Linked DNA regions of Homo sapiens: all the other regions are linked to region 1. Evidence: fine-mapped expression QTL. A gene starts in region 1. Each other region holds a variant in brackets. All regions are shown on one strand. Distances are from middle to middle. Region 1 holds the start of SALL4 (spalt like transcription factor 4). Region 2 holds the start of ATP9A (ATPase phospholipid transporting 9A (putative)). Region 3 has its middle 140 kb from the start of ZFP64. Region 4 has its middle 10 kb from the start of ATP9A.

Region 1 (4,148 bases):
GTGGCGACCGTCTTCTCGGGAAACCCCGGGTATCAGAGATGGTCTCTGAGAGTCCTCCGGGGTTGCCGCGCACACCCGTCTGCTGCAGGGAAATTAGAAAGCAGGCGGGGAGCGGAGCGACGAACAAGGCCGGAGAGGAGGCTACAAATCCCCCCTCCCCCCACGCGCACGCTAAAAACTTATCAGGCGACAATTTGGCGGGCCGGGATGGAGACGAGATAGTGGAAAACCGCCTCGCTCCTAAAACCTCCGCGGTGAAGTGATGAAGTGGGAACAGAGTTGGCCCCGCCGTTCCTGGCGCGGCTGGGGTCCCGAACTCCCCTCGATCTGGGAAACGCTGGCCGCGGAAGCGTGGGCCAGGTCAGCCGCGGGAGTTCGCTCTGGCCCCCCACCTCTCCCCTTTCACACCCAAGCGCAAATGTGGAAAGCCGAGCGCTCCAGAAAAGCCACGCAAAACGGGAGGCCGGTGCACCCCAGTGGGGCTGCCGCGCGCCCGCCACCCCGGCCACTGGGGGCTCGCACCCTCGGGCTTGCCGCGGTTATTTTTAGGAAGTCGGAAATCAAAGATGGCTGGAGGTCAGGCCCCGAAAGGTTAGGGCGAAGATCGGCAGGCGGCGCAGCCCGGGCAGAAAAGGCGAAATCCAGAAAAGAAAAAAATTTTAAAGGGAAACATTGAGCCCTCCTCCCCCACCTCTCTGGGCCCTCCAATCCCCTGCGCAGCGCGGGTGGCCCGCACCCCAGCTCCTGAGGGTGGGGAGAGGTCGCGCCCCCTCCCCCCACTTGGCCCGGGAGGGGCGCGTGCAACAGATCGTCCTCCTCCGGGGGGTCTTCCAGGGGTGCGCCCCTCCTCCAGCCTCCAAGAAAAGCCCCAAGGGGCTGGTGGAGAGGGTGGGGATCCCCCGGGGTTCTTTCTTTTGAGAGCGACGCGAGGGAGGGGGACCTAAGTTACAAGGGGGGGGGGTAACACCAGTGAGGGGAGTGGAACCAATTAAGTGAGGGGCAGAGGACAAGGAGAAGGGAACCTTTCGGGAGCGAGAACAGAGGAGCGAGTGGGGGTCAATTTTACAATTAGGGGAGAAAGCTGGGGGTGAAACTTACACAAGAGGGGAGAAGAGGAAAAAAGTGTGAAATGTGCAAAAGGCGGGGTGGTGGGGAGAGGAGGAGACCTCTCCTCCCGGGCACTGAGCCCCCAAATCTCGGCTCCTGAATTTGCGCTGGACGCCGCCCGCTCCCCGAAGCCTGCGCCCTCGAGGATCCCGCGTACGTCCGGGAAGCTCCCCTCCCCGGGCGGGCGCCCCAGCCCCACTCACCCAGCTCCCCCGCCGCGGGCGCCGCTGGGGCCGCATCTGCAAACTCCGGGGTCTGCTGCTGCGGCTGCTGCTCGCCCTGGTCCTCCTCCGAGTTGATGTGCTGGGGTTTCGCCTGCTTGCGCCTCGACATGGTGCGAGCATCGGGGCGCCGGGAGAGCCGCAGTTATTTGCCCTCTCCGCCACAAATTCCTGGAGTTGGGAAATTTACCCCCCTTCGGCCGGAACGCGCATGTCCCAGTAATTATTATTATCAATAATGCATTGCGATTTATCATGAGCCCTGACAGCTGATTGGCCTGGGTCCAAGACCTCAGAGATCATTTAAATAAGCCCTCATTGATCAGGGAGGGGTGAGGCATTCTGGGCTTTGTAGTCCGGGCCTACTTGTGACAAAGGCGTGTTCATCAGGGGAGCGCAGCTAATTAGCATCCGGGCTCAGATTGGCTGGGGCGGGGACGAAATCAGAGGGGGACCCATCCTTGCTCCAGCTATCTCAGTCCTTGGAGAGGAAAAGAAAATGGGGAGAAATGCGTACTCATTAAAAAGTAGGAGCTTACGTAGAAGTTTTGGAACGGCTTTATTTGGTAGTTACTTGCTCCAAAGATTACTTGGTAAGGTTGATGTCCACCAGCCGAGAAGGGAGATCTCTTCACAGTGGAATATTTTGGCTCAGTTTTCACATCTACACGCACACACATTCCCCCAAACCTGAGATGTGACCCGTGTCCCCTCCCATCTTTTTGATTAAAAATGTTTAAGTTGAGTCTCGAGATAACTGAAGAATGATGAATGGTGGTGTTTTCAGCCCTCCCACCCATCTCAACTCTTAAAGTGAGCTCGGAACTTCCAAAATTTCAGATACCCCACCACCACCATGACTTACCTCCTTTAAAAGCTGATTAATAGCCTCCAGGATTCCTGTTCACAAAGACTGGTTTGTGGTTACAATGCAAACCTTGATTTTTTTTTAACTTCAAAATGACTGGCTACTAAATATAGAAATGGCAAATGATAAGCAAGCATAGTCAGAGATAATATCAAAACAGCAAGCAATTGCATTTTTTTCCCCAGGAGCCATAAATGCCTGATAACATCATATTTTATTACTGAGACAATGCTCTTGCATCTCCCATGGAATGGCAATGGGGCACTGTCACAGTATCTGGTTGTTACTAATCACTATTGGAATTTTTTTGTGCAATACACACATTATTACAGAAAAGGTGTATCGTTCAAAGTGATTGTATCATTGACACATGATGCCTGGAATTTTTTAAAGTGGGGCTTGTGTGTGTGTATATGATATATTACATGTATACACATTTATACCGTAAATTCATGTATACTTAATTTGGCTAACTGCTTTACACAATGTACATGCTCAATAAATGTTAAATGAATGATGAAATCATCAACCTGCTAAGTCTTTGATTGGTCTTTCCATAACTGCTCTGGGCATGCGTCTTTGTTTGGCATTTACTTCATTGTAAGGGACTGTGCAGATATAAACCCTCCCTCCACATTTGTGCATTGCATTCTCTTGATTAGTTATTCATCACGTTCCCAGCTTGTAAACTCATCAGGAATACAAGCAAAATGGAATGCTGGGCTCATCAATGTGTTCACCTGGGTATTTGGACAACCCAAGGCAGAAAATAAATCAGCTTGATCATCTTTTTTATATTCGTGGCCATCAGTAAAAACTTGTTGAAGGAAGATTAACCTTCAATTTTTGAGTCTCTGAAAAAGTCTTGCCTTATTTTATGTATAATATTTAAAGCAAGTAAGACAGAATTATAGCCAACAGCCAGATTGAAAAGGTAAGAATTTGGTTTAATAATACATAGAAGCAGTTTAGAATTCTGATACTGAGTAAAAAGGCCAATTAGCACCTGCCTTGCTGACTAATCTACTAATATTCTCAACACCTTTTCTGTGTAAGATAGTGTGGCAGGAGATCTAACTTACAAATCTAAACGAATGTGCAGTGGGTTTATGGCTCAAAAAATACTATTGGGTTAAGGAAAATTTCATTTATATAGTTGTTTATATTTATTTTAGTAGATGATAGTTGTAACATGTTAGCCTTACTACGAGACAAAATTGTGCCGCTTGACTCTCCAAGTGATAGTAATAATAATAATTGATTGAGCCCCTTGTACATGCCACAGACTGCATTAAATGAATGCACACCGCCTTGTTTTATCTTCCCATGGAGGTTGGCCCTATTGTCCTCTCCATTTTGAAACTGAGGCTCAAAGACATGAAGTGACTTAATTAGAAACTGGCTGAGCTGGTGGTCAGTTTCTAAGCCGGTGGTCAGTTTCTAAGTCTGACTCCAAAATTCTATCACATCCTAATACCTGTCTTCCAACTATAGCTGAATATAGAGAAGATAGCTAAAGAAGAAAAATCGGAGTACAGTAAACTAAATTTAAAGTGTCCTAGAAAAATCTTGGGTCTTCAGAAATCACTCCAACAGATGAAGTCAAGAAGTTTCCCTCAAATGGAAACCTTCCACAAATGTCATATCAAGAAAAGCAGGACACAGTACATGTTTTGAATCTACCCCCAGTTTAACAGCTGCAGCCAGGAGCCAGTTGGTGGAAAATAAAGTAAGTCCTAGAGCAAAGCAGGGGATGAACGGAGGGCATAGCAACAGGCAAGTCCGTAATCAAAAGTTGTTTCAGGCTGAGCACAGTGTCTCACGCCTGTAATCCCAGCACTCTGGGAGGCCAAGACTGGCGGGTCACCAGAGGTCAGGAGTTCGAGACTAGCCTGGCCAACACGGTAAAACTCCATCTCTACTAAAAATACAAAAATTAGCTGGTTGTGGTG
Region 2 (4,161 bases), 36 kb before region 1:
CTCCTCTCACAACCTCCAAGACCACGAACACATTAATATCAGTGAATCTTTGTTTCCCTGTCAATAAAATGGGAGAATTTTTTTTTTTGAGATGGAGTCTTGCTTCTTCACCCAGGCTGGAGTGCAGTGGTACAATCCTGACTCACCGCAACCTCCACATCCTGGGTTCAAGCAATTCTCCTGCCTCAGCCTCCCCAGTAGCTGGAATTACAGGCACCACCACCACACCCGGCTAATTTTTGTATTTTTAGTAGAGACAGGGTTTCACCATGTTGGCCAGGCTGGTCTCGAACTCCTGACCTCGAGTGATCCGCCCACCTTGGCCTCCCAAAGTGCTGGGATTACAGGCTTGAACCACCACATCTGGCCCCTAAAATGGGAGAATTAACTCCAAAAACTCACATGGTTGTTGTAAGGATTAAAACAGCCCTATTTATCTCAAGTGTCCAGCAGACAGCCTGACCCATTACATATTACTTTTTTCTTCCTTTAACCACCCACCCACTTTAGCCCTCACGCTGCCATCCCCCAGCCCCTAGTTCTATTTCAGGAAGCTCCTCCATCTCTCTGTGCTTCTCAAGAGTTTCTAAACTTCAGGATTCCACCTTGATGTTGCTACTCCTGAAAATGCAGATTATATACAAGAGCATTTACGCAAATGCACAGCAACCCTGATACACAATTTGAATCCAAATCCATGTCACTGTTTAAGAAATAGATTGGCCAGACACAGTGGCTCACATCTGTAATCACAGCACTTTGGGAGGCCAAGGTGGGTGGATCACCTGAGGTAAGGAGTTCGAGACCAGCCTGACCAACATGGAGAAACCCCATCTGTACTAAAAATACAAAATTTGCCGGGCATGGTGCATGCCTGTAATCCCAGCTACTCAGGAGGCTGATTCAAGGAGAATCGCTTGAACCTGGAATGCGGACGTTGCAGTGAGCCGAGATCGTGCCAGCCTTGGCAACAAGAGTGAAGCTACATCTCAAAAAAAAAAAACAGAATTAGATTAGTTCCAGGCCAAGCACGGTGGCTCACGTCTGTAATCCCAGCACTTTCGGAGGCCAAGGCAGGTGGATCACCTGAGGTCAGGAGTTCAAGACCAGCCTGGCCAACATGGTGAAACAACTCTCTCTACTAAAAATACAAAGATTAGCCGGGAGTGGTAGTGGGCACCTGTAATCCCAGCTACTTGGGAAGCTGAGGCAGAAGAATCGCTTGAACCCAGGAGGCAGAGGTTGCAGTGGGCCAAGACCAAGGCATTGCACTCCAGGCAACAAGAGTGAAACTACATCGTCTCAAAAAAAAAGAAAGATTAGTTCCAAAGCTGGTAAATTCTAAAGGGGCTGTGATGCTCCATTCCAACGCAACCTAGAAAACTTACTTTTAAATAAAATTATCTGCACCACTCCCTCTGGCTCTCCATATGAACGGCTCATGTTTCTATCACGCTAATGATCACTTTTGAACAATATTTGCATTTTTCTTTCATGTACTGACTCAAAAGTTCTCAACTCTGACTGCATGTTAAAATCATCAGGGGAGCTTATTAAAATATATAGATAGAAACCCAGGTCCCACCCTAAATTCTTATTTCAAAGGTCTAGAATGAATCAGAAAAGGCTAGTTAAGTTTCCCTGGTGATTGCAATGAACAGCCAGGGTCAGGACACCCACACCTGTTGGGCAGGTCTTCTTTAATTCATCCTTGCATCCCCATCAGCTGGAGTGGCTCCTGCACATAGTAGGCGTCTCATAATTGCTCATGGCACAAATTAATAACCACTGGATTTTAGACTCCACTGATCATATTAATTCATCACAGTATTTAC[G/A]GAGGATGTACGATGTACCAGGCACTGTTCCAGGCATAGTGTTCAAGTCAATTGTCATCATTAAAACGAAGGAGGCCGGGCGCGGTGACTCACGCCTGTAATCCCAGCACTTTGGAAGGCCGAGGTGGGTGGATCACGAGGTCAGGAGTTCAAGACAAGCCTGGCCAAGATGGTGAAACCCCCGTCTCTACTAAAAATACAAAAACTAGTCAGGCGTGGTGTCGGGCGCCTGTAATCCCAGCTACTCGGGAGGTTGAGGCAGAGAATTGCTTGAACCCGGGAGGCGGAGGTTGCAGTGAGCCGAGATCTCGCCACAGCACTCCAGCGTGGGCAACAGAGGGAGACTCCGTCTCAATAATAATAATAATACTAATAATAATAAACGCAAAACAGAGAAGGGAGGAGTGAGGGAACTATCTTTGGGTCAGACAATCCGGAGTTCAATCTCCATTTTGCAGTCTTCCCTATAGCCCTTAACCTCCGTAACCTCCAGTTTCCTCCTCTGGGTAATATCAGTGAGGCCTCTTCTTCGGAGGATTCAGGAAGCCAGGGACAAAGACCCCACAAAATGGCCGCCAGCACCATTCTTTTTTTTTTTTTTTTTAATTCCACTGACACCTGGTGAAGCCACCCTTATGGTTCACTCCACCCGCCGCGTCTCCTGTTCCGAGCAACTGACGCTGCAATAAGCGGCCGCCACCGGGAAATGCCCAGAGAGGACCAGACGCCCGAGGAAGGGCGGAGCAGAGCGGCCGCAGGCCCCGCCCAACACCGCGCTCAGCCTCCCGCGGGCTCCAGCCTCACCTGCGCGGCCTGTGGAGCTGCACATCTCCAGGCCCCGCCCCCCAGAACTCTGATTGGCGGGTCTAGGCGGGGGCCGGGAAATCTGCATTTGCACCAGCGCCCACCCCCGTCCTTCCCACCCCCGCCCCTCACGCCCAGGTAAGTCTATGGCAGGCGATACGAGAGCCCCGCAAACCTCAACGCGTCACGCTGCCATCCTCCGAACAGGAAGACGGCGAGGCGCAAAATACCAACCCGTCCCCTCTTCCCAAATGCAGAAAAACCCTTGCCTGTTCCGCGCCTAAGCTGCCCTCGGGGTCTCCTACTGCGGGAAGGGCACAGCAGGTGGCAGCCCCTGTCCCAGCCGTGGGATTCCTTCCCCGAAATTGTGGGGGGAGAACACAAGGGGTAGTGTCACCAAGCGGCCAGTAGGAGACCCTCCCACCCTCCTGCGACTGCTGGTTCGGGTCCACCCCGGGCGGAGGGGGAAGGGGCCACCGGAGCGCAGGTGGTCTCGGCGCAGCCTCCTGGGGCTGGGACCCAGGGGCGCTGATGGGGTACCCCGAGGCGTAGGCCGCGCCCCCCTAAAAGCTGAGCATATCTGGGCTCCCGAGTAATGCTCCAAGCGCAGAGCTCGGTGTGACACTGACCAAATTGTTACCTCAGATATTAATTACGGACAGATATTAATTACGGAACAATAAAACGGTGAGAAAGCACGGCTGATCCGAATTCCGCGAGTGTGTAAACAGCACTGGGGCGGGCCCGGCTTCTCGGGGTTTCTAAAGGAAGGTGGGCAAGGAGGCCCAGGCAACCGGGCGCTCGAACCCCAAAGGGCCGGCATCAGGCTAGGTGCCGCCCGGGGCTGAAGCGCAGGGACCCCCTCCCCACCTCCCCGCCTCCCCAGCCCTGCCCCAGGCTCATGGCGCCGGGCGCGGCGCGCGGCCAACCTGTCAGGCCCGGCCAGGCTGGCCCGAGCGCCGGGCTCCGGGAGGCGCGGACAAAGGAAAACACGGGCCCAGGCCCACTCACCCGGCGCGGGGCCTGCTGTCCATCCGCTTCTTCTGGCGCACCGGCTGCAGCGGGATGTTGTCCGTCATGTCGGCGGCGCCGCCCGCCTTGGCCGCCGCGCCCCCCGCGCCGCCTGGGCCGCCGCCCGGTCCGGCCTCCGCGCCGCCGCCCGCCGGCGCCGCGCCGCCCCGGGGGAGGAGGCGGCGGCAGCGGGCGGGCCGGGCCCGCAGCGAGGGGGCGAGCTCGCGAGCGCCGGGCCACGCGCGGAGCGCCCGCGCGGCCCGACCGACGGACACGGGCGCACCATGGGCCCGAGCTCCGCGCTGCGCCCGCTCGCTCCGCGCCGCGCCGCGCCTGCCACGGGGGGCGGCCGGGCCGTGTCCGCGCCGCCGCGACCGCTGCAGTGTCCCCGCCCCCGGCCCGCGCCCGCGCCCCCCACGCGCGCCCACCCGGCCACGCGCCCCCCGCCCACGCCCGCCGTGCGCGCACCCTGCCACCGCACCCCCCGCAAAATCCCACATTCACAATCACA
Region 3 (4,162 bases), 250 kb after region 1:
GCACGAAGCCTCCACATGGCTTTACTCCTCACTGGAGGGTGACTAGGCTAGAAAATGAGATGAGTATTCAAAATATTGATCCCAAAGAGTTCCTATCCTTTGACGAATAAGTAAGAAAATGCATGTGAAAATGGAAAAAAAAAATTTAAAAAAATCGCAAACATCTTTAAAGTAATTTCCAAATCTTAATTATATATGTACATTTTTTAAAAGATTGTCTCATTTTATTTTTTGTATTGAGGTCAAATTCACTTAACAAAATCAACCATCTTAAAGTATACAATTAAGAGACACTTAGTCATTCATGATGTTGCACAGCCCCCAAGCTGGATTATCTTCACAAACATGTACATTGCACAGGGCTCTGGGCACGATGGGCTTTGCTATTTTATCGTATAGTCATTTAGTGTCCCTCAAGGACACTTGGCTCCTGAAGATTTTCCCAACCCTAGGCCTCTGGCTCATACTGGGTTTCCTGCCTCTTCTACATCTTGTCGTTGAATTTCAAAGCTTTATAACACACTAAACAAATTGCTATGGGTCTTAATTCACAGTCTCTTTGATATGTGGCTGGTTTATACAGCAAGTAAATGTCTGGGTCTCTGATTGGTTACAAAGCCAAAAATAATCCAGATAATGAGAAAATTTTAATTATAACCATACTTGGTTTTAAAGGCCCCCAGATTCTGTTTGTTTGCTTATTTATTTGAGACAGGGTTTCACTTTGTCGCCCAGGCTAGAATGCAGTGGTGCAATCATGGCTCACTGCAGCGTCGACCTCTCAGGCTCAAGTGATCCTCCCACCTCAGCCTCCCAATAGCTGGGATTCCAGGTGCACGCCACCATGCCCAGCTAATTTTTGGTGGAGACGAGGTTTTGCCATGTTGCCCAGGCTGGTCTTGAATTCCTGACCTCAAGTGATGCGCCCGCCTCAACCTCCCAAAGTGCTGGGTTTACAGGAATGAGCCACCTCGCCCTGAATATTTACATACAAACTCAAAATAATCTCCTCTGCCCTTTGTCAGGTTGTTTGATGGGGGATAGATTCAATGCTTACTGTTGAAAATTTCCAGAATAAATTTGGGCTCTATAACATTTAATACTTATAAGTGCACTGAATTATAGAAGACAGTTCAAAGCTTTTCCTATACTGATAATTTGAACTATCATTTCTTTTCAAATGCAAATAAGTTCTTTGGGGGTATTATTAGAAAAAAATTAAAACTCCATTATTTGCATCATAGTGTAGGAGGATTACTTTTTAAAATAATGACTGTTTTCACCCAAACCCCCGCCCTGCTTTAGCTTCCAGACAGGTAGTTAGAGATTCACAAAAAAAGAGAAATCCTGGCTATTCTTTGAAGCTACAAACAAGCCCTGCATTTCTGTATGTTCTTAGAAAAAGCTCTGGCCAGGCAGTTTTTTTGTGTGTGTGATCACACCAGTAGCATCACTGAGTTCAAAGTGGGGGGAAAACCCATTTTAACAATGCAAGAATTTCCCAAAGTCCAAACGCCCGGGCCACACCGCTCCCACAAATGGAAATAGTATCAGATCTGCATCATAATTGATCCTCCAGATTTCCACCCACAAAAGAAGGATGTGGTCAGTAAGAACAAATAACACAGGGGCCGCGGAGAGAAGCTTTTTTGCAAACTTTCCCCTCACTCCACCCACAAAAGTCAGGCAACCGACGTACATGTCAGCATAATCGCTCAAGATATGATC[G/A]CGTTTGAGGCTTATGAAATGTTATCAAACGCAGTGGACAAGCACATCGGCGATATTTCTTTTTTCCGCTGAGATGTGAACTGCTGATAAATATCCATGGTTGAGTTTTTTCCATACTTTGATTCTTCAAAAGCTAAGCCATTCAAGGTGTCAAGGCTTTTTGCCCCTGCCTTCCACAGACAACAAGGGGGAGAAAAAAGAAAAAAAGAAAAAAGAGGATGAAAATGAGGGGGAATAAGAGAAAAAAAAATGGACACAGATAAAAGAAATTAAGCGAGCCATAATGTCTGTGCTTTATTTTAACTGGGTTGTCCTGTCCCGCTGTGCAGCCCATAATCCAAGCTGGGAGAGAGGCCCCCGCTGGGTAGCTAATTAAAACAATTATAAATACAAAGAAGGTATCAATGGCATTCCAAGACTCAAACAAAGAGATAAAGCACTGAAGATTTAAATTGTCAATGGCCAGTCTCTTTAGGCAATTCTGAAGAGGAGTCAGTGTCCCCAAGTCCCCCGAACTCCTTTGTAAACTGACTTATGTTTGGTTACAGGGGACCCTCCTCCCTCCTTTTTGGGGGGCTTATCGACATGAAAATTCATCAGTGATGGAATTAAGGGAAGTTAATTTATAGGCTCACATACAGTTATTTGTCCTGGCGCGTCAGAATAGTGGACCTGAGTTTAAAATTAAAATCTAATCTGGAAAAAAGACCCCAGCCCTCCTTATTGAATCAGTATTTTTATTCGTATTTTTTGGCAAGAAATTAGATGCAGGTATCAGTATTTTTAAAGACAAGAAAACAAACAAAAAGATCTTTTAGCCCCAATTGAAAGTGACACAAACCGTTTTTTTTTTTTTTAAGTACTGTGGGCAACTTTAGGAATGTTAAAAATGTAGCAAGTGTGCTAGACTACTTTCTCAGTGTATTTTTATAAAATGATTTGCAGAATCAAACTTACCCAACAAAAATAGAAAGCTTTCCTAATTTCTTAGACCTAGGATTTCCCCTGCCTGCTTTCTGGCTTTTGTAGAGCACTTAAAGGAACACTCAAATCATACATGCTAAGAGATAGCAGCCCAGTGCAGTTTAAAGGGACTCTCAGCCTACAGTCTGAACGAATAGAATGGATCGCAGAAGTTTCCAGGTGGGTCCCTTGGAGAGGGTGGTCAGTTTGCTCTCAAGAGCTGGGTGTGATCAGCGACAGCCTGAGCTCCAGGGCCTGGCCAGTGTGCTACAGGAGAGAGAGCCAAAGGCCTCAGCTCTTAGAAGGCTCACTCGGCCTCAGCTCTTAGAAGGCTCACTCTGAAAAGGAGGTGGTGACAGCAACTCTGGTCCTTCTTTTCACCATGAAAGAAAGCGCAGTAACTGGTGTAACTGGTAAAAGCCAAAAGGGAGGGAGGCAATTAAGGTCGAGGAGACTGATAAGAACTCAGTAGGGGTCAGAGCCCTTCTCCTACTCCTTCACCCACCCTCCTCTGCTCCTTTCTCAGCTCCTCCCACTACCACTCCTTTTTCTTCTCCCCTCTTCCCCTCCTCCTTTTCCCTCCTTTTCTTCTTCTTCTAATTCCTCTTCCCTCTTTTTTTTTTTTTCTTTTTTTTGAGACGAAGTCTTATTCTCTTGCCCAGGCTGGAGTGCAGTGGTGTGATCTTGGCTCCTTCCAACCTCAGCCTCCCGGGTTCAAGCGATTCTCCTGACTCAGCCTCCCAAGTAGCTGGGATTACAGGCGAGTGCCACCATGCTGGGGTAATTTTTGTATTTTTAGTAGAGACAGGGTTTCACCATGTTGGCCAGGCCAGTCTCGAACTCCTGACCTCAAGTGATCCACCCACCTCAGCCTCCCATAGTACTGGGATTACAGGCGTGAGCCACCATGCCCGGCCTCCTCTTTTAATCTTCCTCCTCCTGGCTGGGCATGGTGGCTCACGCCTATAATCCCAGCACTTTGGGAGGCTGAGGCAGGCGGATCACGAGGTCAGGAGTTCGAGACCAGCCTGGCCAACATGGTGAAACCCCGTCTCTAGGAAAAATACAAAAAATTAGCTGGGCATGGTGGCGCATGCCTCTAATCCCAGCTACCTGGGAAGCTGAGGCAGGAGAATCGCTTGAACCCAGGAGGCAGAGGTTGCAGTGAGTGGAGATCATGCCACTGCACTCCAGCCTGGACGACAGTGTGAGACTCCGTCTCAAAAATAAATAAATCTTCCTCCTCCAATTCTTCTTCTTATCTTCCTTCTCCTTTATCTTCTTTTCCTTCTCTTCCTCCTTATACTTTTTTCCCTTCTTCCTCTTCTCCTTCTGCTTCTCCCCTTCCTCCTCCTTCCTCCTCCTCTTTCTCCTCTTCTTCCTTTTTTACTTTGCCTCTATTTGTAAGGAGATTGAGACTTTCTTCTTTAGGAATATCCATGGCTTTTCACTCTTTGCCTTTGTGCAAGTA
Region 4 (4,162 bases), 24 kb before region 1:
TATAAAAGCTACGTTTACACTATATCCTGTTAAGTGTGTAATAGCATTACATCTAAAAAACAATGTACAGGCCGGCCACGGTGGCTCACGCCTATAATCCCAGCACTTTGGGAGGCTGAGGCAGGCGAATCATGAGGTCAGGACTTCGAGACCAGCCTGGCCATCATGGTGAAACCCCATCTCTACTAAAAATACAAAAAATTAGCTGGGCATAGTGGCAGGCACCTGTAATCCCAGCTATTCGGGAGGCTGAGGCAGGAGAATTGCTTGAACCTGGGAGGCAGAGGTTGCAGTGAGCCAAGATCGCACCAGTGTACTCCAGCCTGGGAGACAGAGTGAGACTCCATCTCGGGAAAAACAAAAAACAAACCAAAAAAAAAAACAACGTACATACCTTAATTATAAATTCCTTTATTGTTAAAGATGTTAATGATCCTCTGAGCCTTCTGGAGTCGTAATTTTTTTGCCGGTGAAGGATCTTACCTTGATGTTGATGGCTGTTCACTGATCAGGGTGGTGGTTGCTGAAGGTTGGGATGGCTATGCCAATTTCTTTAAAATAAGACAACAATGATGTTGGCTATATTGATTCTTTATCTGAGATTTCTTTGTAACTTGTGATACTGTCTGAAAATATTTTACCCACAACAGGCCGGGCGCGGTGGCTCATGCCTGTAATCCCAGCACTTTGGGAGGCCGAGGCGGGTGGATCACAAGGTCAGGAGATCGAGACCATCCTGGCTAACACGGTGAAATCCCATCTCTACTAAAAATACAAAAAAAATTACTTGGGCGTGGTGGCAGACGCCTGTAGTCCCAGCTACTTGGGAAGCTGAGGCAGAAGAACCACTTGAACATGGGAGGCAGAGGTTGCAGTGAGCTGAGATTGCGCCACTGCACTCCAGCCTGGGTGACAGAGCGAGACTCTGTCTCAATCTCAAAAAATACTTTCTTTGCTCATCTGTAAGAAGCAGTTCTTTATTCATTCAAGTTTTCTCCTAAGATTGCCACCATTCAGTCACATCTTCAAGCTTCACTGCTATTTCCAGCTCTCTTGCTATCTCCATCATATCTGCAGTTACTTCCTCCACTGAATTTTGTTGTTTGTAAAGACAGGATTTCACTGTGTTGACTGGGTTGGTCTTGAACTCCTGGCTCTCAAGCCATCCTCCTCGGCCTCCCAAAGTGCTGGGATTACAGGCATAAGCCACGGTGCCTGGCTCTTTCACTGAAGTCTTGAACCCATCAAAGTCATCCATGAGGGTTGGAAGCCACTTCTTCCAAACTCCTGTTTATGTTGATATTTTGACCTTCTCCCATGAATTACGAATGTTTTTAACAACATCTAGAATGGTGAATCCTTTCCAGGTTTTCACTTTACTTTGCCCAGACCCATCAGAGAAATAACAAACTATGGCAGCTTACAAAATGTAGTATTTCTGAAATAATAAGACCTGGAAGTTGAAACTCTTAGAGGCATTTGAACCAGAGCCACTCCATCTCGAACAGGAGCTGGGGAAAATAAAGCTGAGACCTACTGGGCTGCATTCCCAGGAGGTTAAGGCATTCTTAGTCACAGGATGAGATAGGAGGTCAGCACAAGATACAGGTCATAAAGACCTTGCTGATAAAACAAGTTGCAGTAAAGAAGCCAGCTAAAACCCACCAAAACCAAGATGGCGACAAGAGTGACCTCTGGTTGTCCTCACTGCTACACTCCCACCAGCGCCATGACAGTTTACAAATGCCATGGCAACATCAGGAAGTTACCCTGTATGGTCTAAAAAGGGAAGGCATGAACAATCCACCCCTTGTTTAGCATATCATCAAGAAATAACCATAAAAATGGGCAACCAGCAACTCTCAGGGCTGCTCTGTCTATGGACTAACCATTCTTTCATTCCTCTGCTTTCCTAATAAACTTGCTTTCACTTTATGGACTCATCCTGAATTCTTTCTTACGTGAGATCCAAGAATCCTCTCTTAGGGTCTGGATCCAGAC[T/C]CCTTACCAGTAACAAAACCACTCCTTGATCCAGACTACAAAATGAATGTTGTGTTAACAGGCATGAAAAACAGTATTAATCTCAGTATTAATCTCCTTGTACATTTCCATCAGAGCTCTTGACAGATGCATTAGATGCATTGTTTTTTTGTTTTTTGAGACGGGAGTCTTCCTCTGTCGCCCAGGCTGGAGTGCAGTGGCGTGATCTCGGCTCACTGCAACCTCCGCCTCCCAGGTTCAAGCAATTCTCCTGCCTCAGCCTCTTGAGTAGCTAGGATTACAGGCGCCCATGACCACGCCCAGCTAATTTTTGTGTTTTTAGTAGAGACAGGGTTTCACCATGTTGGTCAGGCTGGTCTCGAACCCCTGACCTTGTGATCCACCCGCCTCGGCCTCCCAAAGTGCTGGGATTACAGATGTGAGCCACTGCGCCCGGCCTAGATGCATTGTTAATGAGCAGCCATAATTTTTGAAAGAAATCTTTTTTTTTTTTTTTCTGTGCAGTAGGTCTCAACAGTGGGCTTAAAATATTCAGTAAATCATGTGATAAACAGATATGCTAAACTGGGCGCGGTGGCTCACACTTGTAATCCCAAAACTTTGGAAGGCCGAGGCGGGTGGATCACTTGAGGTCAGGAGTTTGAGACCAGCCTGACCAATATGGTGAAACCCCATCTCTACCAAAAATACAAAAGGCAGCAGGTGCCTGTAATCCCAGCTACTCAGGAGGCTGAGGTAAGAGAATCACTTGAACCCAGGAGACAGAGGTTGCAGTGAACTGAGATTGTGCCACTGCACTCCAGCCTGAGTGACACAGAGACTCCATCTCAAAACAAAAATGAGATATGCCATCATCCAGGCTTTGTCATTCCATTTCCAGAGCACATGCAGAGTAGAAATAGCATCATTCTTAAAGGCCCTAAGATTTTCAGAATGGTAAATGAGCATTGCTTTAGCTTAATGTCACCACCTGCATTAGCCCCTAACAGGAGTCACCTTGTCCTTTGAAGCAAGGTGTTTTTTTCCTTTCTAGCTATGAAAGTCCTAGATGGCATCTTCTTCCAATAGAAGACTGTCTTGTCTACTTTGAAAATATGTTGTTTAGTGTAGCTACTGTAGTTATTGTAGCTAGATCTTCTGGATAACTTGCTGTAGCTTCTACATCAGCATTTACTGCCTTACCTTGCTTTTTTTTTTTTGTTTTCTTTGAGACAGAGTTTCACTCTTTTTGCCCAGGCTGGAGTGCGATGGCACAATCTTGGTTCACCACAACCTCCACCTCCCATGTTCAAGTGATTCTCCTGCCTCAGCCTCCCGAGTAGCTGGGATTACAGGCATGCACCTCCAAGCCCAGCTACTTTTGTATTTTTAGTAGAAATGGATTTTTCTCCATGATTGTCAGGCTGGTCTCGAATTCCCAACCTCAGGTGTTCTGCCCCCCTCAGCCTCCCAAAGTGTGAGGATTACAGGTGTGAGCCACCACGCCCAGCTGCATTTTTATATTAGGAAGATGTCTTCTTGGGCCTGGTGCAGTGGCTCATGCCTGTAATCTCAGCACTTTGGGAGGCTGAGGCGGGTGGATCATCTGAGGTTGGAAGTTCGAGACCATCCTGACCAACATGGTGAAACTCCGTCTCTACTAAAAATACAAAAATTAACTGGGTGTGGTGGTGCGCACCTGTAATCCCAGCTACTCGGGAGGCTGAGGCAGGAGAATCACTTCAATGCGGGAGGCAGACGTTAAAAAATTAAGCAGTACTTAATTTTTTTTTTTTGAGACAGAGTCTTGCTCTGTCGCCTAGGCTGGAGTGCAGTGGCGTGATCTCGGTTCACTGCAATCTCTGCCTCCCAGGTTCAAGTGATTCTCCTGTCTCAGTCTCCTCAGTAGCTGGGATTACAGGCGCAATGCCACCATGGCCAGCTACTTTTTTGCATTTTAGTAGGGACAGGGTTTCACTGTGTTGCCCAGGCTGGTCTCGAACTCCTGAGCTCAGGTAATTTGTCCACTTTGGTCTCCCAAAGAGCTAGGATTACAGGCGTGAGCCACTGCGCCTGGCCTATAAACAAATTTAAACAGAGAAAAGGTACAGTAAAAATTAGTATTACAATCTTATGGGACCATGGTTGTATATGCGGTCTCTAACTGACAAAACAAAGTTAT

The links.
Region 2: its variant is fine-mapped to the expression of SALL4 in whole blood (TOPMed, PIP above 0.99).
Region 3: its variant is fine-mapped to the expression of SALL4 in whole blood (TOPMed, PIP 0.98).
Region 4: its variant is fine-mapped to the expression of SALL4 in whole blood (TOPMed, PIP 0.99). The same link has a PIP of 0.9 or more in blood mononuclear cells.

Annotation. Positions count from the first base shown.
Region 1 is chr20:51,800,969-51,805,116 of GRCh38, forward strand. It overlaps SALL4 (spalt like transcription factor 4), which reads right to left and starts at 1,553. Exons shown (of 4, transcript NM_020436.5): 1 at 1,311-1,553. The coding sequence starts at 1,440. RefSeq lists enhancers at 1-614, 1,258-1,899.
Region 2 is chr20:51,764,652-51,768,812 of GRCh38, forward strand. ATP9A (ATPase phospholipid transporting 9A (putative)) reads right to left here and starts at 3,739. Exons shown (of 28, transcript NM_006045.3): 1 at 3,651-3,739. The coding sequence starts at 3,718. The variant G/A (reference allele first, on the strand shown) is at 1,836.
Region 3 is chr20:52,046,439-52,050,600 of GRCh38, forward strand. No RefSeq gene overlaps it. Among named protein-coding and RNA genes, the nearest start is that of ZFP64, 140 kb to the right of the region's middle. RefSeq lists enhancers at 1,416-1,935, 1,936-2,453, 2,454-2,972, 2,973-3,490. The variant G/A (reference allele first, on the strand shown) is at 1,729.
Region 4 is chr20:51,776,743-51,780,904 of GRCh38, forward strand. No RefSeq gene overlaps it. Among named protein-coding and RNA genes, the nearest start is that of ATP9A, 10 kb to the left of the region's middle. The variant T/C (reference allele first, on the strand shown) is at 2,002.